3 separate regions of the Homo sapiens genome follow, and all the other regions are linked to region 3. The links come from fine-mapping of genetic effects on gene expression. A gene starts in region 3. Each other region holds a variant in brackets. All regions are shown on one strand. Distances are between the middles of the regions.

Region 1 (8,184 bases), 23 kb before region 3:
CCAAAAATTTACCCTGTCACATTTCCCCAGCTGCTGGTTTAAAAATAAATATCCTGGATTTAAAGCCAATTGTGTCTAACAGGTGCCACCATCCAAGTGAGGATTTCACTGTTCACAGGCATTTGAGACACACCAGCGGCCGGCGGTTCTCACTGCTCTTCATATGGAGGCAACCATATATGGGTAAGTCATTTAGTCTCTTAGGTAGGCGAACTGAGGCCAATCTCCCCACTTTTAGGGCTGTGAAACTGTTCTGTATGATACAATAATGGTGGATATGCGTCACTATACATTCGTCCAAATCCACAGAATGTACAACACCAAGAGTGAACCCTACTGTAAACTATGGACTCTGAGTGACAATGATGCATCAAATAGGTTCATCAGTTGTAATAAATGCACTGCTCTGGTGCAGAATGTTGATGATGGAGGAGACAGGGGTACATGGGAATCTCCGTACCTTCCATTCAATTTTGCTAAAACTACTCTAAAAAATAAAATTAAAGAAAAAAAAAAGCTCCCCTCTTTCCCCAGTTTTACGATTTATTTATGCTTTGTGAAATGGAGTCTCACTCTTGACTCCCAGGCTGGAGTGCAGTGATCTCAGCTCAATGCAACCTCCACCTCCCGGGTTCAAGAGATTCTCCTGCTTCAGCCTCCTGAGAGGCTGGGATTACAGGCGCATGGCACCATGCCCAGCTAATTTTTGTATTTTTAGTAGAGATGGGGTTTCACTATGTTGGCCAGGCCAGTCTCGAGCTCCTGAACTCAAGTGATCTACCGTACCCGGCCCCCAATGTTAGTTTTTAAATAAACGACTATGTTTAATTCACATGCTAACAGGCACCTAGAGAATACTTTCAAGTAAAAAGATTAATGAACCCACTTCGCATTGAGTTAGCTGGTTGTTTTCTGCCAACCAGGTGTCCCTGCCTGGTCCACAGTTGACCAAGGATCCCTGCATCTGCCTCTAGCAACACCCAACACTGTATGAAGGGCTGAGGGGGTCTGACAGTTCACGTCACTGACATCCTCTCACTGGTATTTCGAATGCCAAGCCAGCCCTCAAATCAAGTTCACTGGCCTCGACTGAGCTGCCAAGTATTTCATACATGGGGAGGGGGGTTGGGGGGGGGGAGGGTAGGGGGATCACACAGGTGCCAGGCAATGAGTAAGATTATCCCAGCAACTTCTCCATGCAGAGAGAAATGTCTGCAGCTGCAACACTATTTCTACTCCAGCCTTCTAGACTCCATGTAGTTTGCCTTTGTTTGAATGTTTCTATTTATCTGAAATAACCAGAAATCATTTTTATTATTATATATTACTCCAGTTTATTAAATAAATGAAACAAGGCTTATGCCACATATTCCAACAATGTTTAAATAAAGAGCTTGAAATATAAAGGCTTATGAAAACTTCATACTCTTTATATAATGCATACTATTTCTAGCACATGAATAAATATAAAGGACAGGAGCCACTTTTTATATTATGAATCCACAACATTAAGCATCAATGATTACACAAATCCATAAGCACACAAACAAAAAAACCCATTGGTTATAAAAACTAGAATTCCTTTTGGCATATTTAAGAAAACCCAAAGGTGGGGAGGTACTTATAGCCAGAACCCTGACAACGAGGGGACCAAGTCTCCCAATTCCTTAAGTTGTTTCTTGGTTAGAAGCTTCAACAATTGCATTAACTCTTTCAAAAAAACAGAAAAAGCAGGTTAAGATCCTGTTCAATAAGGCACTTAATAAGTCTACACTGAAGAAATACTATGCTTTTATCTTAAATCGTGCTTAAGTTTTACCATGAGGTTTGAATTTCTTTCCACCTTGGTAGGAACATGTATGTAATTTGAATAAACTGGTAATAATACTGTCTGACATTCGCTCTTTACATGGTCATTAAAATGAATTTGCTTCTACTGTTTTAAAAATTGTATGCATATTTGAAAAAGTAAAATTTTTCTACATTAAAAAAAGAGCATTTCAAGAAAAGCAATCTTTAAACTCAAAGAACTCAAAAGTGAAAGCCTCTCTATAGAAAGTCTTTATAAAATCAATGGAATGTTTTGGAAAGAAGAAAAAATCCTAAGGTGTAGTTTAGAACAAGCAGCAAGGCCTGAATGAGCTCTGGGGTCCTCTGCTGCCCTCTAGGGTTGCCCAGGGAGAGCTGGACTTTCATCTGAGTCTCAGCAATTAACAGGTAACCCTACCCCACTGCACCCCGCCCCCGCCCCCACCTTCTGTTATCCTCTCTTTTTGATGACTTTGTCTTAGCTCTCACTTTTGGAAATAATATTCAAAGGGACCATTCATGCATAAGGAAGGCAAGGGAAAAATGCCTGCGAGGAAAAATTATCTCATCCTCCAAAAAAACCTGCAGTCCTTCTATTCAGTCTCAACAAAGAGACTGGCCAGACTGGGAATTTGGCCGCACTACTGTGGAAGGAGAATGCCCTGGAGCCCCAGCTAACATGTATTTAATGTTGTTCTCAAAGGGGGAACTGAAGAGACCCAAATAAATATGTTCCCTGTCCTGTGGCTGCCTCCCAGAAGTGGAAGTTCTTGGGGTTCTCACAGTCATCTTTTATTTTGAAAAGACTAAGATGAAGACAAGAAGGAAGAGGGCTCTTTCTCTGAAGCAGGTTAGAGTAAAGAATAAGAAAATAGAAAAAGAAAAAAAGAAGAGGGAGAATGACTTATTGTGTCTACAGAAGGAAAGAAAAAGGGAAAATATTACATACCACCTATCAGAAACTAGCTAAATAGATGCACTAAAGAAATCATTTTTAAAATTTCAAGCAGGTATTTTCCATCCAAACTAAACAGAAAGTCCAAGACAGGCACAACATAAACTAAAGTAAAAACTGGAAACCTGGAAAAATCAACTCTTTGATTCACTACCAACATTTTGCTAAGGAAAATGTACTAAAGCCTGAACTTATACAGTGTTCTTTCTTCAACAAGACCTTAACAAAGGGCTTCATTCACAATTACCATGAGAAGCCCATGAGAACATGCCCCTCTTCTACATAGACTGTTTAGAGCTGTTCCACAGCATGATGTAAACACATTTACCTTTCCAGTCAAGTAGCAGCAGCTACTATTTGTTCTTCATTTGACCCTCTACATCAATAGACGTTATTATCCCCATTTTACTCATTGAGAAATACATATGCTTTGCTAAAAATCATAAAGCTAATTACTAACATGACCTAAGACAGAACCTAAGCTGCTTGAAAACACCCCCCACCAATACAGACCTTGCAACCTTCAAAGCCAACACATAACACCACCACGAATTTAGAGATTATTACTTTGTAACAATTTCTCACAAATGTCAAGTCTTCAAAGCTTAAAATCACTTATTATAAGTGGAAGATCCTGCCAAAATAGGAAATGATAAAGCAGTGTGATATTCCTAGGATCCATTTCCTGCACCGTTTATACCTGGGGTTGAACAGTCCAGGTCTCCATACATGAAATTTCTTCAGTTGACAAGGAGCAAAATCTCCCAGAAATTCAGAAACCATAACACCTTCTCGGAGGCTCCATTCCATGGTTCCAGTGAGCTTTTCTAGAGCAGTCTGATTCTCAGTCATGAGCTGAGATGCATCAGGAGCTACTCTCCCTGAATAAAACAATACATCGCTCCTGATTTTCTTGCAAGTTTTCTTTAGCAAGAAACATGCATTTCACATATTATCTTTGATGTTGAAGGGCACTTCAGTGGTAAAGACTAGTGTTTGGATGTTAGTTTATGCCATTAAACGTTTGATGAAGAGCATCCAATGCCAACACACAGCAATCTCAACTAACCCAGTCTTCATCTGTTGCTCACATCCCAGAATCTGTGATGAGCCAAGCAGTGAGAAGCAGAGTGAAACACAGGAAGCTTTGCTGTTTCAGAAGTTACCATTTTCAGAAAGATGTCTCATGCAGCCTTGGCTT[G/A]TCACAAATCCAATTTCTTCAACTGCTCGTATGTCACAAAGAACTGTGGTTATGGGTTAAGGATGACACAGAAAATGCCATCTTCACAACTCCAGTGCATAACAACAGACTTACAAATGGCACACTTAATAACAAATAGGTACAGGCAGACCCACGCTATGGACACGATTAAATAAAAGGGGTTCCACCCTTAACCACATCAAACTATCTTCCAAGGTCAGCTTGGAGCAGAAAGATCACAGCTGAGATATGTAAATCCCCTGGTATCAGCCTCTTCTGAGATGGCATCTACGCTGATAAGCTTTTGTGGCTTTGCTGTGGTGGAAAAACTTTCCAGCACTGTAAGCTTTTGAGAGAGAGAGAGAGAGAGAGAGTTAGCAAGCCCTGGGAAGCTCTCCTCAAAGGCTTCCACTATGCATCCTTCCTTGGGAGGCAGGAGCTGATGAAGAGCAACAAGAGGACAGCAAAAGCCAGCATTCCTGCTTCATCACTCTGCCCTTCAGTGTCTAATTAACTGCCTCACGGGCGCGGTGGCTCACGCCTGTAATCCCAGCACTTTGGGAGGCCAAGGGGCAGGTCACTTGAGGTCAGGAGTTTGAGACCAGCCTGGCTGACATGGTGAAACCCCATCTCTACTAAAAACACAAAAATTAGCCAGGCGTGGTTTTATGTGCCTGTAATCCCAACTACTCAGGAGGCCAAGGCAAGAGAATTGCTAGAACCCAGGAGGCGGAGGTGGCAGTGACCCGAGATCACGCCACTGTACTCCAGCCTGGGCGACAGAGTAAAGACTCAGTCTCAAAAACAAAAAAAAAGTTAACTGCCTTTCCTTTCCTGCCTCCCACTGTGGCACATAGGAAGCGTGCTGGCCTGCCAAACAATTCCGGAGCTAATTCCTGTTTATCTTCAGGCACTTTCTAAGATAAGCATTCTAAGACACTGTTGCCAACCACATCCTTCCCAAGGTGGCTAGGGCTATAAAGCCAATCCTCCTCTCTCTCTCTCTGAAATCGTAAATACCCTCAGCTTCTAGAACAGAGTCTAACTAAACCTTTTTAGTAGTATCACTACTTTTGAATAATACCACCATCAAAGCAAGATTCAGTGTCTAGCACGGAGACTTTACACTTCCTAAAAAAGAAACTAAGTAGTGACTTCTTAGCATCAGAGGAACTCAAAATAATCAGAACCTACTTCTAAATTATAATTAATAACATGAGAGTTTATACAAATAGTATTCTTTAGCTGTATCTTTTTTCAGATCTATTGCAACAGAAAAGGATACAATGATATTCCAAGGACCAAGTCTCAACCAATTTGGCCAAAAGCCTTTATAGAGAGCAAAAAACCCTTCATTCTTCCATGTCTGTTAAAAGAAGAAAAAAAAGTTAACTTCCAACTTTCTAATTATGCCAAATGCATTAATAATTAGTGGCCAGGCCAGGCGCGGTGGCTCACGCCTTTAATCCCAGCACTTTGGGAGGCCGAGGCGGGTGGATCACCAGGTCAGGAGATCAAGACCATCCTGGCTAATGCAGTGAAACCCTGTCTCTACTAAAAATACAAAAAAAAAATTAGCCGGGCATGGTGGCAGGCGCCTGTAGTCCCAGCTACTCGGGAGGCTGAGGCAGGAGAATGGCATGAACCCGGGAGGCGGAGCTTGCAGTGAGCCAAGATCACGCCACTGCACTCCAGCCTGGGCGACAAAGCGAGACTCCATCTCAAAAAATAATAATAATAATTAGTGGCCAGACTGATTTATTTTTCTTAAAAATAAAATCCTGTTTGGAAGGACTGCCTAAGAAATCTTTGCTCTTTAGAGGCTTGTGTGGGTGGAAGACTAAGGCTCCATGCCCAACAACCCCACACGAAGGATTGAATGAACTCCACACAAAGGAGATAAACACTGTTGAGTGAGGAAAAAATTAGATTTAATTCCAATTACGGTCTGTTGCTTCCGTGCCATGTGGGCTCCTGAACAGGTCACAAATAAAGAAGCAATAGTGGTAGAGATATCATTCAGAGTACCACTATTTCCCAAGATGTCAGGTGGATGAATACGATAAGTGTCTTTGCTTCATTAAGGCAACACCTGAAGAATAAAATGTGCTAGTGTCATGTTGGAAAACAGGAACCACAAAAGTGGCCCCTGTAGCCATAAAAAAGAAATCACGTTCTTTGCAGCAACATGGATGGAGCTGGAGGCCATTATCCTGAGCAAACTAACGCAGAAACAGAAGATCAAAAACCACATGTTCTCATTTTTAAGTGGGAGCTAAACAATGGGTACACACGGACATAAAGATAGAAGTAACAGACACTGGGGACTCCTAAAGGGGAGAGGCTAGAGTTGAAAAATTATCTGTCTGGTGTAATGCTCACTATTTGGGTAATGGGTACATTAGAAGCCCAATCTCCACCACTACGCATGTGCCTATGTAACACACCTGCACATGTACCCCCTGAATCTAAAATACATTAAAACTTGAAAATAAATAAATAAATATCACCTTAAAAAAAAAAAAAAAGTGACTCCTAATCCTACTACTGGCAATCTAGTGGCAGAGACAGGTGAAACCTTTCACCCACTCATAAAACAGGAGGCCCAATTATTTAAACTGAGAATTAAAGTAAGATTGATGTGTTCCTTTAACAGAGATGTCTGAATGAGGGATATTCATACTAGTTTGACCCAACAGGAAGAAAGTACATTTTGGAAGGAGACCCAGTTCTTTTATAATCACAGGAAATATTTCCTCACCTTTCACAGCAGATGGAGGTATAAAGAAAACAACATTGTATTTATAAAAGCTAAGCACAGTGTGGCAAAAATGGTCTCACACATGTACATCTCTGGGCTTTAAAGCATCATTCATCTTAGTTTTAGTAGCTTTCATAATTTAGTTACTTCTTAGATCAAAAAAATATATAATTCACAACCCTGCAGAGACAGACATCTGCTCTTACCTGTAACAAGCAATCCAGGGTTCCTGTGTAGCCAGAACATCTGCCATCTCGAAGCACTCTCTGATTCATCATACGTGTCCTCACAACATCAACAGGGTTTGAGGCCAGGGCCCCTGCCAGACCACAGGTGAAGCTTGAGCTATAAAGACACCATTGGAAAAAAAAAAAAAAGTTAACCATCACTGAGCTACAACCACCATCAAAGGCAGAAAACAGCTTCTGCCCAAACTATGGGGTTTTCTTGTTTGTGGTTTTCGTGTTTTGTTTTGTTTTGTTTTGTTTTTGAGACGAAGTCTTGCTCTGTTGCCCAGGCTGGAGTGCAATGGTGTGACCTTGGCTCACTGCAACCTCTGCCTCCCAAGTTCAAGCGATTCTCCTGCCTCAGCCTCCCAAGTAGCTGGGATTTCAGGTGTACTCTACCACATCCAGCTAATTTTTTTTGTATTTTTATTAGAGACGGGGTTTCGCCATGTTGGCCAGGCTGATCTCAGACTCTTGACCTCAAGTGATCTGCCCACCTCGGCCTCCCAAAGTGCTGGGATTACAGGCATGAGCCACCATGCCCAGCCCCAAAACTATGTTGAACTAACATGTATCAACATGAAACATGTCAAGAAGAGCCATATCTAGAGAGCTTGATAAACTGCTTACATATTAGCACCGATTATACTAGCTGATAAATCCCAGCGACAGCTAAGAATACCTGACATTCTAGAATGTCAAAGGATCATAAAACATAAAGGAAATCCTCCAAGGATGATCTTTTCCATCTATTTACCTGTAAGTGGACATCAGAGTAATTCTAGCCATATCATAATTATATCATTTCCTAGATATCAAAGAAAAAGATCTCCTTACTATAATGCCCCGCAAAGGTCTTAGGTTCTGCTATATTTTCAGTCCCACAAGACTACCACAGACCATACTTTATATCAATTAACCCAGAGCAAAGTTTCTCAACCTCAGCACTAGCTATATCCCTGGCCTGGCCCCACTAGATGTCAGTAGTATTCCCCCCTGGTTGTGACAATCAGAACAGTCTCCACACATTGCCCACCAATGGATTATGTATGATTATATATATATATATATATACACACACACACACACACACACACACACACACATATGAATGATAATATATATGTATGATATATCCATACAATGTGATAATCTGCAGCTATTAAAAATAAATGAAGGCCAGGCCGGCAATGGCTGACACCTGTAATCCCAGCACTTTGGGAGGCTGAGG
Region 2 (8,184 bases), 22 kb after region 3:
TGATTATTGTGAAGGCCGTGGAGCGCTTTGGGTCCAGGAATGGCAAGACCAGCAAGGAGATCACAATTGCCGACTGTGTTTTATCTTAACCACCAGACCATTCCTTCTATAGCTCAGGAGAGTGCCCCTCCGCACCATTTGCTCACAGTATCCTAGAATCTTTGTGCTCTCGCTCAGTTCCCTTTGGGTTCCATGTTTTCCCTGTTCCCTTCCATGCCTAGCTGGATTGCAGAGTTAAGTTTATGATTATGAAATAAAAACTAACAACCAAAAAAAAAAAAAAAGGCTAGTTTGATACAGCTTAGCAGATGGCTTAGAGCCAGGGTCCAGGACTAGCCATTGTTTCATTACCTCCTCCAAAGCCCTGGGGAACCCACCTCACCCACAGTCCCCTCTGAGTGTGATCAACAGTGGTTACACATGATCCATCACCCAGTCACACAGATAGGCCAAGGGAGACATGGATAGAGGTCTGAGGTGGCCTTGAGAACTCTGCCCTGTAGTGGCCCCTCTGCTGGATGGTGAAGGCTGTCCCACAGGAACTCTTGGGACATTTGACATAAGGCACGAGTGAAAATCCGCTGATACAGACAAAAGCAGTAGAGTCAGAGGCAAAATATCTGAGTCCCTGTCATGGTGGAGACCCAGAGCAGGAATCCATAGTTGCCCAGTTCTGAAGAGTCACTTGCCAGGTATTGTGACGGTGCCACCAGAGTTGCTATCAGAGCAATGGGGCTACAAGTACATCCCAGACTACGTCCTATATGGCCTAACCACATGGCCGGAGACAACTTCCTGTGTCCTTTATTTCCCTATGTAGCCTTATAATTGGCCTTCATTCATGGAAATAACCTGAGGATGTGCCTGCTCCTTGAAACCCTGAAAAATCTAATTTACATCTAAATGCCACAAAAGGAAGCCACTGAAAGGATTCTGGTCACATCTTCCTTCCTTAATGAAGGATTGGTGGGGACTCTCCAGAAGCCATTGGTAGAGCAGCTTATTTCTAATCCTCCTCTGTTGTGCCACCCTCCACTATGGAAGCTGAAAATGTTAAATACTTCTTTCCCGGCTGGGCGCGGTGGCTCACACCTGTAATCCCAGCACTTTGGGAGGCCGAGGCGGGAGGATCACGAGGTCAGGAGATGGAGACCATCCTGGACAACATGGTGAAACCCCATCTCTACTAAAAATACAAAAATTAGCTGGGCGTGGTGGCATGTGCCTGTAATCCCAGTTACTCGGGAGGCTGAGGCAGGAGAATCACTTGAACTAGGGAGTCAGAGGTTGCGGTGAGCCAAGATCGCACCACTGCACTCCAGCCTGGCAACAGAGTGAGACTCCATCTCAAAAACAAAACAAAACAAAACAAAACAAAACAAAACAAAAAAACTTCTTTCCCAGCCTTTCTTGCAGCTAAGCATGGCCAAGTGACAAGTTCTGTCCAACGAGACAAACATGAAACTCTTGGGCAGCATAAGGAGGAGTGTTTGAGAAAGGCTTTACTTCTGTACAAAGAGAACAGGCCCAGGAGCAGTGGTCACTGGCACTGCCCCTTCCCCATTCTCGTGCCTTGAATACAAACATGGTACGTGCAGCTGTGGCCACAGTCTCACTCTCACAAAGTGACAAGCATGTTAACAAAAGGCCCACATGCTAAGAAAGGCAGGACCGAAAGAGAGAAAGAGTCAGGGTCTTATTGACATTGTCAGGCAGCTAAACCAACTTTCTACCCCCAGGCTTCTTGTTTCTTGAGAAAAAGACCACTTTAACTTGGTATCACTGCTTATGGTTTTCCTAACTGATAACACTGCATATGTAAAACTAATCACAAAATGTGCATCATAGACTGGGTGCAGTGGCTCACACCTGTAATCCCAGCACTTTGGGAGGCCGAGGCAGGTGGATCACTTCAGGCAAGAAGTTCGAGACCAGCCTGATCATCATGGTGAAACCCCGTCTCTACTAAAAATACAAAAATTAGCCAGGCATGGTGGTGGGTGCCTGTAATCCCAGCTACTCAGCTACTCAAAAAAAAAAAAAAAAAAAAAAAACACACACAAACAAAAAAAAACACGGGAGACACCTCCTGAGATGGAAGCCACTGCACTCCAGCCTGGGCTACATAAAAAAAAAAATGTATCATAGATTTATAACTTATTTAAGTAAACTTTTAAGCAAATCACACGTTAGTGATTCCACAGCAGGATTCAGTCACTCCGACTATTTCTTGTACAACCTCAAGTGGTTTTCTTTGGTGTTTTTTTTTGTTTTTTGAGACGGAGTCTCGCTCTGTCGCCCAGGCTGGAGTGCAGTGGTGCAATCTCAGCTCACTGCAACCTCTGCCTCCCAAGTTCAAGCGATTCTCCTGCCTCAGCCTCCTGAATAGCTGGGATTACAGGCATGCGCCACCACGCCCAGCTAGTTTTTGTATTTTTAGTAGAGACAGGGTTTCGCCGTTTTGGCCAGGATGGTATCAAACTCCTGACCTCAGATTATCCACCCACCTCAGCCTCCCAAAGGGCTGGGATTACAGGCATGAGCCACCACGCCCAACCACAAGTTTTAAAACCACTTTGGGTTTTAAGGTGAGTCCTGTGAGGGCCTCTGCATATGCCAGTGTCCAGGCTCTGCAGACATGCCGGAAAGAGAATGCTTTCTGTTTGACTGTGCCTCCTCTTACACAGACACTACTCATGTGCATTGTTGTGGATGGCTGCATGCAGTAAGAGTATAAAGACCTCACTCAAATACACAATTAAGCACACTTTATATTGCTCATGTGAAAGGGAGCTACTATAGAATCAAGGCAGCCCTGCATGAAATTGTTAGGGGATGATTTGCGACAATACGGACGGACCTAAAGGACATTATGCTAGGTGAAATGAGTCAGTCACAGAAGCTTACATGAGGACTTTAAAATAATCAAACTTAGAGAAGCAGAAAATACAATGGAGGTTGCCAGAGGATGGAGGAAATGGGGAGTTTTTCAATGGGTATGAAGCTACAGTTATATAAGATGATTAAGATCTAGACATCTGCTGTATAACATAGTGCCTATTGTTAACAATATACCATGTTGTACACTTAAAAATGTGTTAAGAGGGTAGATTTCATGTTAAGTGTTCTTCCTCGCATACACACACACAAAAAGGCAGACAAAGGGGCACAACGAAACTTTTGGAGATGATGAACTTATTTGTTACCTTGATTGTGGCAATGATATCATAGGTATATGTGCATTATAACCAAAGTCATCAAATTTTATACATTTAAATATGTGCAATTTTTTGTATATCATTTATACTTCAATAAAGCTATCAAAAAATTAAAGCATTGTAAGTTAAAGAAAAAGAAAAGAAAAGGCTGGGCATGGTGACTCACACTGTAAAACTGTAA[T/A]CCTAGCACCTTGGGGGTTCAAGGCGGGTGGATTGTTTGAGCCCAGGAGTCGGAGACCAGCCTGGGCAACATGGTGAAACCCTGTCTCTACAAAAAAAAAAAAAAAAACATACAAAAATTAGCTGGGCATGGTGGCACACACCCTGTGGTCTCAGCTACTCAGGAGACTGAGGTAGGAGGATCACTTGAGGCCAGGAGGTTGAGGCTACAGTGAGCTGAGATCACACCACTGTACTCCCCCTGAAAAAAAAAAAAGGAAGAAAGACAGGAAGGAAGGAAGGACGGAAGAAGGAAAGAAGGAAGGAAGGAAGGAAGGATGGAAGGAACCCTGTACAGAATCTAATATGGACAACATACATCATGTAAAAAAAATTAGGGGATGGTTGTTAGAGAAATACATAGCCACACATATATTAAATGTCTTCCCAAAATGCTCAATGTATTTATGACCTAAAGAGCTGATACTTAGCTAACCCACATAACAGGAGCTCTAAATAGAACAGACACTCAGCCAGTGCCGGTTAACTAACAAATTCCTCTGCAGAACGGCAGCTCAAGAAGCAGATGCATTTCACCCTCGTGCTTATGTTGGCACTGATAACAATGTCCTGCTGGGTTTCTCTCCTCATCATGTCCTTCCCCACAGGTCAAGGCCAGTTCTCAGTTAATGGTTTGAGTCACAAGGACATGCAGTCCTCTTAGAGTGGACAAATGCCAAACTTGCTCTATCAACACCACAGAAGGATTTTTCAATGGCTAGAGGTCTCTATATGACCAGGAACTCCTAGCCTTAATATAGACTTTCCAATAGCCTAGGAAAAATTCTACAACCAGAGATGCAAGTACTCACATTACCACCATCACCCTTTCACCTACTTACCTAAAAAGGGATAACTAGACCTTGGCTGGGGCTTATTGATATAGGCCACAGAGTACCCTCTGTACCTTGACAGTCTATTTCCCAGATGTAATGCAATGTCCACATAAATAAACAGAATAACTCTGTCCCCAAATATGTTTCCTTTAATCAAAGTTCACTGAAAAACAAAAACTAAGGATGATTTAACAAAATAGTTTGTATGTGTTCATTGTCCTCTTTCCATTTATACTAAAAAGATAAGAAGGCTGAGTGCAGTGGCTCACGCTTGTAATCCCAGCACTTTGTGGGGGCTAAGGCAGGTGGATCACCAGAGGTCAGAAGTTTGAGACCAGCCTGGTCAACATGGTGAAACCCTGTCTCTACTAAAAATACAAAAATTAGCCGGGTGTGGTGGTGGGCACCTGTAGTCCCAGCTACTCTGGAGGCTGAGGCAGAAGAATCTCTTGAACCCAGGAGGCAGAGGTTGCAGTGAGCCGAGATTGCGCCATCGCACTCCAGCCTGGGCAACAAAAGTGAAACTCTCTCTCAAAAAAAAAAAAAAAGAAAAAGAAAAGAAAAGAAAAGGAAAAAAGAAAAGAAACTTGATAGAATGGTCAGATGGCTTTTTCAGTTGTTACTTTCAACAACTTTCAGTTGTTCAGTTTTTCAGTTGTTACTCTATCATACACATCATAGCATGATATGAGTGCTAAATAAATATTAGGCAAGTTATCATCAGTAAAGCCAATCTGGAAATTTACAAGATTCAGCTGAAAATTGTTTCTTGTCTCGGTTTCTATGAGAATACCAGGGGAACACTACCAGGGCTTGTCCAGGATGAATGTCTCCAACTTTACACCTTATTACTTGCTCTCATGCACTAGTGCTTCACCTTAAAATGAATCATAACAGCAAGTTATCCAGCAAGAACACGACAGGAGGTGATCTGTCTGGCTGTGGTGCTTCCACAGCCAGCCACAGGAGGGGTGTAAAAAGATTCTCTTGCCTAGGACAATGGCATTTCTGATTGCTAATTTTGTCTGACTGTGGTTTACAAATTCAACTTCCTTTGAAGATACGCATTCACTTAATTCTCTGGCCCAGCAAACCAGAACAGAATTTCTAGCTACCAATGTGAATCCTGAATATTTGTTTCCTTTTGGGTTTAGTAAAGTAGAAAATGAAACAATCACAAGAGGAAATGTGCCTAGAAAAAAAACCTGATTAAATCTGTGGAGAGTGGTTGGTAAAAATGGAAACATTTCACATTTCACCAAAAATCTCACATGTTGCTGTGGAAAATAAATGTATTTTTTACTTAAATGCATGCATTTAACAATCACCGATTGATTGCCATGCTGGGTACAAAAGGTGGGGAAATGCCTTTGCATTTAGAGATTTACAGTCTGATGGAAGAGGAAAAAAAAATCCAAAATTATATAATGGCCTGGAAGGGTGCTTAGAAGTCTTCTTGGGAGAGGCCGGGTGCAGTGGCTCACGCCTGTAATCCCAGCACTTTGGGAGGCTGAGGCGAGTGGATCACGAGGTCAGTAGTTCAAGACCAGCCTGGCCAGGATGGTGAAACTCTGTTTCTACTAAAAATACAAAAAAAATTAGCCGGGCCTGGTGGCGGGCACCTGTAATCCCAGCTACTCGGGAGGCTGAGGCAGGAGAATCGCTTGAACCCAGGAGGTGGAGGTTGCAGTGAGCCGATATCACACCATTGCATTCCAGCCTGGGCAACAGAGCAAGAAAAAAGAAGTCTTCCTGGGAGAGATGACACTTAAAAAAAAAAAAATAGGGCAAGGCGTGGTGGCTCATACCTGTAATCCCAGCACTTTGGGAGGCCAAGGCGGGTAGATCACCTGAGGTTAAGAGTTTGAGACCAGCCTGGCCAATGTGGTAAAACCCCATCTCTACTAAAAATAAAAAAATTAGCTGGGCATGGTGGCGTGTACCTGTAGTCCAGCTACTTGGGAGGCTGGGGCAGGAGAATCGCTTGAACCCAGGAGGCAGAGGTTGCAGTGAGCCAAGATTGTGCCACTGCACTCCAGCCTGGCGACAGAGCGAGACTCCATCTCAAAAAAAAAAAAAAAAATAGAGATGGGTCCTCACTATATTTGCCAGGATGGTCTCAAACTCCTGGCCCCAAGCAATCCTCCCACCTCGACTTCCCAAAGTGCTGGCATTACAGGTGTAAGCCACCATGCTTGGTCAAGATGACACTTGAGTTGACCAAGTCTTGAAGCATTAATGTAGGTTTCCCAGTGCAAAAGCTAAATTACAATAGTGGGAATGGGGAGAATAGATTCAAGAGAGCTTAAGGAGGTAAAATCCATGGAATTTGACTGATCTGCTAGGAAGGTGGAGGAGAGGTAATTGAGGCAAACATCTGGGTTCCTGGCTTGTGGCAAAAGGTGTCTGGTTGTATGTCTCACAGAGCACAGACTGAGGGAACAGGGGCTGTTTAGAAGTCAAGGTGATGGTTCTGTTTGAGACATGTTGGTCTAAGGTGTCCAAGAGTATTTATGTGTAAGAGTATAGGAGTCAATGTGCTATGTGCTGGGTCTGAGCTCAAGAAATATGTATGAGCTAGAAACAAATGTAGAGTCATTGAAGCTACACCAGCAGTAGCTAAATCTATGGCTCTGGATGACGGCTCCCAGGGGCAGTGAGATGAGCATTAGGTAGGGAGCCATATTAGGAGGTGCCAACATGGGGGCATGAGCCAGACAGCTGGGAGAGCAGGGCCTCCAAAGCCCAGGAGGGAGTGGTCAACACATCACAAGCCAAAAGGACTGCTACGGACTGAATGTTTGTGTCCCCGGCTCCCCAAATTCATATGTTGAATTCCTGATCCCTAATGTAATAGTATTAGGAGGTGGGACCTTTGGGAGGTGCTTGCTTTGGGAGGTGCTATGGTTTGAATGTATGCATTCTCCTGAAATTCTTAAGTAGGAACCCAATATCCAATGTAGTATTATTATGAGGTGGGGTCTTTGGGGATGTGATTAAGTCATGAGTACTCTGCCCTCATGAATGGGATTCATGCTCTTATAAAAGAAGTTAAAAGGAGTATCCTAATTCTTTTTGCCCTTCCATCTTTTCCACCATGTGAGGACACAGTGTTTGTCCCCTCTGGATATGAGGCAAAAAGGCACCATCTTGGAAGCAGAGAGCAGCCCTCACCAGACACAAAACCTGCCAGTGCCTTGATCTTGGACTCCCCAGTCTCCAGGACTGTGAGAAATAAATTTCTGTCATTTGTACATTACCCAGGTTGTGGTATTCTGTTATAGCAGCAGGGACAGAAAAAGGAGGTAATTAGATCCTGGGGATGAGGCCCTTATGATGAGATTAGTGTCCTCATAAGAAGAGACAGGGCCAGGCACAGTGGCTCACACCTGTAATCTCAGCACTTTGGGAGGCTGAGGCAGGTGGATCACCTGAGGTCAGGAGTTTGAGACCAGCCTGGCCAACATGGTAAAAACCCATCTCTATTAAAAATACAAAAATCAGCCGGGTGTGGTGGCAAGCATCTGTAATCCCAGCTACTTGGGAGGCTGAGGCAGGAGAATCAATTGAACCCAGGAGGCGGAGGTTACAGTGAGCCAAGATCGCGCCACTGTACTCCAGCCTGGGCAACAGAGTGAGACTCCGCCAAAAAAAAAAAAAAAAAAAAAAAGAGAGACAGGAGAGAGCTTGCTTCTTCTCTCTACTCTCTGCCAGATGAGAATACAAGGAGAAAGCAGCTATCTGTGAACCAGGAAAAGGGCCTTCACCAAGAACCAGTCTTGGCATAAGCAGAAATAGTAGACGCTGGTGATAAAAGGGTGGAGGTTGGGAGGGGAGTGAAGTTGAAAAATTACCTGTCAGGAACCATGTTCACTATTGGAGTAATGGGTACGTTAGAAGCCCAATCCCCA
Region 3 (8,184 bases):
GCGAAACTTTGTCTCAAACACACACACACACATACACACACACACACACACACACACACACACACACACGAAAACGGTTCTAGTTAGGACTGGAATAAGTAAGTAGATGTCCACTAAGCTGTACTGGCCACAGCAAGCTGTGACAGGGCTATAAGTATCTTAGGCTGAAATCTCTGTTCAGTAAACTAACCCATTTCTTTGTTTTGGAGCTCTTTCTGAAGGGAAGTCTCGTGAAACACTTCCTTGAATTCCAAACACAGTTGTTTGGAAAAATCCCAACTGGATCTACAGAAGTCCCAAGGCTGACAAGCCAAGACAGTTAGAGAGATTAATGTGTCCTTAGCAGTCAATAGTGTCTGGGCAGCATCTCGGGGAAGGAATTACAACTTTGCAGAAATTCCAGTGTCGGGCAGTGGCTGTAGATCACTTCTGATTTGACAGTCCTCTTACAGCCATGTTCTCTAAGCCATGCTAAAACCCAGTAATTCCTTACTTCTCCTTGCTGCGTTATGAACATAATACTAACACTAGCAGTCATCCCTGAATACCTGCTGTTAGGCATTGCTATACATTTTCTTCACAGTCCTATGAAAGAGGTATCATTATCCACATCTCACAACTAAGCAAACAGCCTCAGAGAAGAAAAGTAACTTTCCCTGGTCAAAGCTACCAAATATTCAAACTAAGGTTTCTCTGAAGGATCACATGACCCTTCCTCTAGATAGTACTTTGCAGACACTATCTTCCAAGGGCTGTTAAAAAAATATTGGTGGGGGGCAGGGCAGGGAATTCTATACATTCAGAATAAATATAGAATTTTCCAGCAGAGGAAATAAAAAATTTTATTTTTAAAAATGTTAGCTGTTGGCCGGGTGTGGTGGCTCAAGCCTGTAATCCCAACACTTTGGAAGGTGGAGGAGGGTGGATCACTTGAGGTCAGGAGTTCGAGACCAGCCAGGCCAACATGGTGAAACCCGGTCTCTACTAAAAATACAAAAATTAGCTGGGCATGGTGGCAGATGCCTGTAATCCCAGTTACTCGGGACGCTGAGGCAGGAGAATAGCTTTGAACCCGGGAGGCAGAGGTTGCAGTGAGCCAAGATGGCGCCACTGCACTGTGGCCTGGGTGACAGAGCGAGACTCCATCACAAAAAAAAAAAAAAGAAAGAAAGCTGTTGGTGCCTGGCTGAATAATTTTTTTTTTTTTTTTTTTTTGAGACTGAGTCTCGCTCTTTCACCCAGGCTGGAGTGCGGTGGTGCTATCTCAGCTCACTGCAACCTCTGCCTCCCAGGTTCAAGCAATTCTCCTGCCTCATCCTCCTGAGTAACTGGGATTACAGGCACGTGCCACCACGTCCAGCTAATTTTTGTATTTTTGGTAGAGATGGGGTTTCACCATGTTGGTTAGGCTGGTCTCGAACTCCTGACCTTGTGATCTGCCTGCCTCCGACTCCCAAAGTGCTGGGATTATAGGCATGAACCACGGCGCCCGGTCCAAATTTTTTAAAGTTAAAAACAAAACAGGCCGGGCACGGTGGCTCATGCCTGTAATCCTAGCACTTTGGGAGGCCGAGGCGGGTGGATCACCTGACGTCAGGAGTTCGAGACCAGCCTGGCCAACACGGTGAAATCCTGTCTCTATTAAAAATACAAAAATTAGCCAGGCATAGTGGTGGGCGCCTGTAATTCTAGCTATTCGGGAGGCTGAGGCAAGAGAACTGCCTGAACCTGGGAAGCGGAGGTTGCAGTAAGCTGAGACCGCACCACTGCACCCCGGCCTGGGCAACAAAAGCAAAACTCCATCTCAAATAAATAAATAAATATATAAATAAATACAAAAAAAAGTGAAAAATACAAAGTAAAAAAACAACAACAAAAATGTTAGCTGGGCTAGTCACACATACCTGTAATCCCAGCTACTTGGGAGGCTGAGGCTGGAGAATAGCTTGAGGCCAGGGGTTCAAGACCAGCCTGGGCAACAGAATGAGACGACCACCTATACTAAAAAAATCCAAAACATTATCTAGGTATGGTGGTACGCGACTCTAGTCCCAGCTACTCCGCAGGCTGAGGTGGAAGGGGCACATAAGCCCAGGACTTCAAGGCTGCAGTGAGCTAAGACCATGACACTGCACTCTAGCAGCCTGGGTGACAGAGCAAGACCCTGTCCCAAATAATAAATAAAGGTTAAAAACAAGTTTTCTGAATGAAATTGTCTATACAAATTAAGAATTTCAAAGGATTCTCCCTACACTTAGGATATATGCTAAGTTACACATCCTGTCTACATTTTCTCTTACATGGTTGCTTAGTATTTATTTTCACCCACCTGACCTCATGTGTACAGCTGTAAAGGGAGGTAATTAAATATAATACTAGCTGTTCGTACTTTTGAACGCTTTCCAAGTTTCTCTTATTTATTTATTTAGAGGCGGAGTTTTGTTCTTATTGCCCAGGCTGGAGTACAATAGCATGATCTCGGCTCACTGCAACCTCCGTCTCCTGGATTCAAGCGATTCTCCTGTCTCAACCTCCCGAGTAGCTAGAATTAGACATCCGTCACCACGCCCGGCTAATTTTGTATTTTTAGTAGAGACGGAGTTTCTCCATGTTGGCCAGGCTGGTCTCGAACTCCTGACCTCAGGTGATCCGCCCGCCTCGGCCTCCCAAAGTGCTGGGATTACAGGCCTGAGCCACCGCTCCCAGCCGTTTCTCTTATTTAATTCTTGGTAAGTTCTTTCAGTTTTACTTCCTGTTCCCTTTTTAGTCTTAAGTCTTAAAACTGTAATTGCACAGCCTTTAATGTGCTCTCATACATTTATTGTTCCTTGCTGGACCGACTGCCCTTTCAATAATGCCCTTTCATGAACTTTTCCTATTTCCTATTCTTTTTAAAGGTGCAGAAGGAAAACTAAGCTCATCACAGACTTACAAAAAGCCGGGTTTAAAAGAAATCTTCGAAATTATCATCTCGTTTCACGTTAATTAACTGAGCCCGCGGTCACAAAGCTTCGCAACGGCAAAGCCAAAAGCAAGATTCATGCCTTTCAACTTTCTCACTACCCAAGTAGCACCGCAAGCCGAATCCGCAGGGCAGTGCCAACATTGTTTGCTACTCTTGCGCAGAACAAAAATGCTAATCACTGCAACTGCTTTACATGAAAGTGCACCTAGAAAGACTTCAAAACCCAGAGGTACATTAACTTTCCAGGCAAGTTCCTCCCAGCCTGTGTGCCACGAGCGATTCCGAATGTGGTGTGCCCTCTCCCACAGTGCGAAGCTCGCGGGCGCTCAGGCTGCCGTTTGAATGAACGCACGAGTGGGAGGGACGCACAAGCAGGGTTGCAAGCCCGGGGCTCGTTAGCAGACGCGGAGATGCCAGGACGGGCTTCGCACTCGGATCTGAATGACCCTGGAACAGGAATCACCCCACGCCAACAGCGATGGGGGCCCCGCGGCACCGGCCCGACCCAAGGAGGCAGCAGCCCGAGAAGCAGAGCCCTGTCCCCAGTCCCCGGAACCTCGCGCCCCGCCGAGCCCGGCCCGGCCTGCGAAGTGGAGAGCACAGGCAGCCCCGAGCACGCCCGGTTGCAAAGGAGGCTCCTCGGAAATCGCAGCCCAACCTTACCCCAGGCCCGGGTTCCAGGAGCCGCAGAGAAAGCGGGGCCGGCAGGAGGAGGCACGGGCCAGGACTTACCTGGCGGCAGCGGCCCCACACCTCCTCCAACCCGGACTCAGTTGTAACAAGAACCTGAGGCCGCTGGAGAAAAGGAAAAAATGCCGTCGCGGGCGGGGCAGACCCACGAGCCTGCACGCAGCCCCGCGCCGCCCCGCCCCGTCCGCGCAAACACGCGACCTCCTCAGCTCCCATTGGTTTCTGCCAGCACTAGCCACACCCCTGACAGCCCCAGATGGGGACACGGAGGGGCGGGGCCCGTCCCAAGTGCCCCTCAGGATCTTCCCCTGCCGCTGCCTGAGGGAGCTGCCCGGGACTCGGTGACACCTGATGTGGCCTCCGATATCGACTGGGAGGTGGAAGAGAAATTTGGGGAACGCATCGAGAACCGTGGAAAAGCAACCTTCGCAGGGGGCAACCTTCTCACGGTGCCCCCGTGAACCTTCACAGTTGGATGGAAGTAAACTTGCCCTTATTTTTTTATACCCCAGCTTTTAGCTTGAAAATATACAGATTAGCCGGGCATAGCGGCGGGCGCTATAATCCCAGCTACTTGGGTGGCTGAGGCAGAAGAATCGCTTGAACCTGGGAGGCGGAGATTGCAGTGAGCAGAGAGCGTACCACTGCACTCCAGCCTGGGCAACAAAGCGAGACTTCGTCTCAAAAAAAAAAAAAAAAAAAAAAAAAAAAAAAAAAAAAAAAAAAAGCCAGACCTGGTGGCGGGTGCCTGTAATCCCAGCCACTCGGGAGGCTGAAACAGGAGAATCGCTTGAACCCGGGAGGCGGAGGTTGCAGTGAGCCAAGATCGCGCCACTGCACTCCAGCCTGGGCGACAAAGTGATACTCCCTCTTAAAAAAAAAAAAAAAAAAAAAGAAAGAAAATGTCCAAACAGAACAAAAAATTAAAAGAACCGTACTATGAGTAGAAATCTTTACATATATATCTAATATACATATATGTAAATATTTATTTATATATTAATATATAACATTTTTAACGGTATGGCAGTGTTTGTGTTCAAGCATACCCAGGTATATTTTTGTTTTGTTTTGTTTTTAGACAGAGCCTCACTCTTGTTGCCCAGGCTGGAGTGCAATGGCACCATCTCAGCTCACTGCAACCTCCGCCTCCCAGGTTCAAGTGATTCTGCTGCCTCAGCCTCCCGAGTAGCTGGGATTACAGGTGCCCATCACCACGTCCGGCTAATTGTTGTATTTTTAGTAGAGATGGGGTTTCTCCATATTGGTGAGGCTGGTCTCGAACTCCCGACCTCAGGTGATCCGCCTGCCTCGGCCTCCCAAAGTGCTGCCATTACAGGTGTGAGCCACGGCACCCGGCTGTGAACTCATGATTTAAACATATAACTGGGGCCGGGCTCAGTGGCTTATGCCTGTAATCCCAGCATTTTGGGAGGCCGAGACGGGCAGATCACCTGAGGTCGGGAGTTCGAGACCAGCCTGACCAATATGGAGAAAACCCATCTCTACTAAAAGTACAAAAATTAGCCGGACGTGGTGATGGACACCTGTAATCCCAGCTACTCGGGAGGCTGAGGCAGGAAAATCAGTTGAAGCTGGGAGGTGGAGGTTGAGGTGAGCCGAGATCACGCCGCTGCACTCTAGCTGCTGCACTCTAGCTGCTGCACTCTAGCCTGGGTGACAGCGCGAGAGAAAGAAAAGGAAAGGAAAGGGAGGGGAGGCGAAGGGAAGGGGAAGGGGAAGAAAGGAAAGGGGAAAGGAGAAAGAGGGAGGAAGGAAGGGAGGAAGGAAAATGCATATGTATAAAACTTGCATCTGTTGATGCAAAGTGCTACTCCAGGAATCTTTACATCCCTTGGTTCATTCAAGACAAAGAAATGTTATTTCCATTTTACAGATGACAGAACAGAGGTTTCATGAGATAACTGCCCTGTTACAGAACCAGGGCCCAGGGCCATCTCTCTCTCATTTCCTTCTCTTGTGTCTCCAGCTCAGGCCCCAGGTTGAGCTTAAACAATCTCTTTTCTGTGCTCCAACTTGGACTCTAGGTGAGTACCTGGATTTTTGGCCACACAATGTTTTGAAATCAATAAAATTTGGACCCCTTTGAAGTATCCCCTGAATTCTGGCCATAAAAACAAATACAATCCCCAGCCTGTGGGGGAAAGTCATTGGAATGCTTGCCTTTCTAGGGCAGGGAAATAAGTACATGACCCTTTCTACCTCTCTCTCACCTCACCAAGTCCTTTCCAGACTCATGACTGTGTGGTACTACATACAAAGCACTGGATTCCTCCCTTTCCTGTAGAGCTTTTGGACACCCAAACTCTACCATTACCCTAAGCCCCACCAGCCCATGCTAATACTCAGATAATACTTAGAAATACACAGGAATGGCCAGCCTTCAAGTATGAAGATCCCTTTGTGGGTTTTTTTGTGCTTTTGTTTTGTTTTGTTTTTCAAGACAGGGTCTCGCTCTGTCACCCAGGCTGGAGTGCAGTGGCCCAGTCACAGCTCACTGCAGCCTCGAACTCCTATACTCAAGCAATCCTCCTGCCTCGGCCTCCCAAAGTGCTGGGAGTACAGGCATGAGCCACCATGCCTGGCCAAAGATCTTTTTGAAAGAAAACTGAATTTTTTAAAAATTTTGAGTCCCTATAAAATAGATGGTAGTATTTTCAGTGTCCATTATGAAAATGCATATGGAATTTGTGGGGCCCCTGCAGTAACCTTGGGTTCCTCCAAGGGTCTTGGCCCAGGGATTGGAAACTATTTCTCTAGGGAATAGTAACTTGGTTGCAGCAGCATAACCAGTTTAGAAACAAGAATAACAAAAAAAGGCCAGGCGTGGTGGCTCACGTCTATAATCCCAATACTTTGGGAGGCCGAAGCAGGTGGATCACCTGAGGTCAGGAGTACAAGACTAGCCTGGCCAACATGGCGAAACTCCATCTCCACTAAAAACACAAAAATTAGCCGGGCATGGTGCTGCCTGCCTATAGTTCCAGCTGCTTGGGAGGCTAAGGCAGGAGAATTGCTGGAACCTGGGAAGCAGAGGTTGCAGTGAGTTGAGATCGTGCTACTGCACTCCAGCCTGGGCAACAGAGCAAGACTCCATCTCCAAAAAAAAAAAAAAAAAAAAAGAATTAAAAAAAAGTGGTAAGTCCAGAAATATATCTACGAACTATTCAGTGCCAGTCCCTGTTGGAAGCAACTTCTTTTTCATCTATTCTTTGCCTTCAACTTTCCCCCTATTTGGCTCTTTGTGCATGTTTTTTATCTGACTACAGTTAACACACCCAGGTAGCAATATGGAAATGAAGACCTAGGTTCTACTCAATCCTGGCCACAGCTTTATTAGCTCTCTGGCCTTGAGTTAATTAAAGTCCTCAGTTGCAAAATGGAAACAATACCCTCCCTACAGAATGTTAAATGAGGCGACGTGTGCAAAAACATACTTTGTAAAATGTAAGTGCTGTAGAAATATCTTTGAATTCATCTGGCCATGGCACTCACCAGCTTAAAATTCTTCATTGGCTCCCCAGTGTCCTCAAGATTAAGGCCCCTGACCACGTGGTCCTTAGAGCCCTCCAGCCATAAGAATCCAGTTCCCTATCCTCCTCACCCATGCACTTGCCCCTCAATCCTACATTCTAAAGTCTGGCCATATAGGCACTTCTCAAGTAGCTGGGCTTTTATTGCCATTTAGGCCTTTTATTAGCAAACTGTTAGAACAGTAACATCCACACAGCCAAAAGCCCTCACTACACTCCCTTAGGTGGATGATGCCAATCTCTATGAGGAGCTGGGCAGCAGGAACCATTTTTTACCCACATCATGGTTTTCATCATCTTGGCAATTGTGTGTGCACTATATAGTGGCAATAAATAACAAATGCTTTGGAATCAACTACAATTTGATAAATGTTTGTTTAATTACATTAAACTACAGGAATGATGCAGATAATATGGACCTGCGTCTTGTCAAGAATGAGTCTCACAGGTTTTTCTGGATGGTTGGTGCTTGCAGAATGAAAGGGCTTAGTCAGACCTTTTAGGGGTAACATTTGGTGGTTGGCGAAAGGAGGAGGTTGTATCTGACTGAGACATCTGGTCACCTCCTCTCCTTGGCAAAATGCAGAAGCAATGAGCCATTGCTACTCCTAAGAAGAACACCTGGATAGGCCAGTGTTCCTAGCTGGTGTACTGGGAATGAGCCCATAAAATTCTTTATCATTATATTTTATTGCAGCGGTTCTCAATCTGAATCAGATTTTGCCCTCCAGGAGAAATTCACAATGTCTGGAGTTTTTCGGTTGCCTCAACTAGATGCTTGCTACTGGCAAGTTGGTAGGGACCTAGGTTGCTGCTAAACGTTCAACAATGCCCAGGAAGGTGGCAATAGTACTGAAGTTTTAGAAATCCTGTTTTATAGGAATGTTGCTTTGGGCATTTGTTTTTCTTGGTTACAGGTGCTTTGTTGAGAATGCATCTTTTGTGTAAGTCACTGAATGGCTGTATAAAATACTC

Direction of the effects. Positions count from the first base shown, and alleles are read on the strand shown. Sizes are in standard deviations (SD) of each study's normalised expression. Not every link is listed here.
With allele G in place of A in region 1, the expression in monocytes of the gene that starts at base 3,771 in region 3 is lower (large effect, 1.2 SD a copy in Fairfax 2014).

The links.
Region 1: its variant is fine-mapped to the expression of SLC25A30 in monocytes (Fairfax 2014, PIP 0.95). The same link has a PIP of 0.9 or more in monocytes after LPS and monocytes after interferon gamma.
Region 2: its variant is fine-mapped to the expression of SLC25A30 in whole blood (TOPMed, PIP above 0.99).

What each region holds. Positions count from the first base shown.
Region 1 is chr13:45,392,008-45,400,191 of GRCh38, forward strand. SLC25A30 (solute carrier family 25 member 30) reads right to left here. Exons shown (of 10, transcript NM_001010875.4): 8 at 6,933-7,071; 9 at 5,251-5,331; 10 at 1,309-4,008. The coding sequence ends at 3,967. Among named protein-coding and RNA genes, the nearest start is that of SLC25A30-AS1, 22 kb to the right of the region's middle. The variant G/A (reference allele first, on the strand shown) is at 3,966.
Region 2 is chr13:45,436,574-45,444,757 of GRCh38, forward strand. It overlaps the pseudogene PPIAP25. Among named protein-coding and RNA genes, the nearest start is that of SLC25A30, 22 kb to the left of the region's middle. The variant T/A (reference allele first, on the strand shown) is at 3,400.
Region 3 is chr13:45,414,603-45,422,786 of GRCh38, forward strand. It overlaps SLC25A30 (solute carrier family 25 member 30), which reads right to left and starts at 3,771. Exons shown (of 10, transcript NM_001010875.4): 1 at 3,698-3,771. SLC25A30-AS1 (SLC25A30 antisense RNA 1) reads left to right here and starts at 3,560. Exons shown (of 2, transcript NR_047031.1): 1 at 3,560-4,136; 2 at 5,646-5,769. RefSeq lists enhancers at 3,126-3,175, 3,986-4,175, 8,053-8,184 and silencers at 3,406-3,735, 3,776-3,875.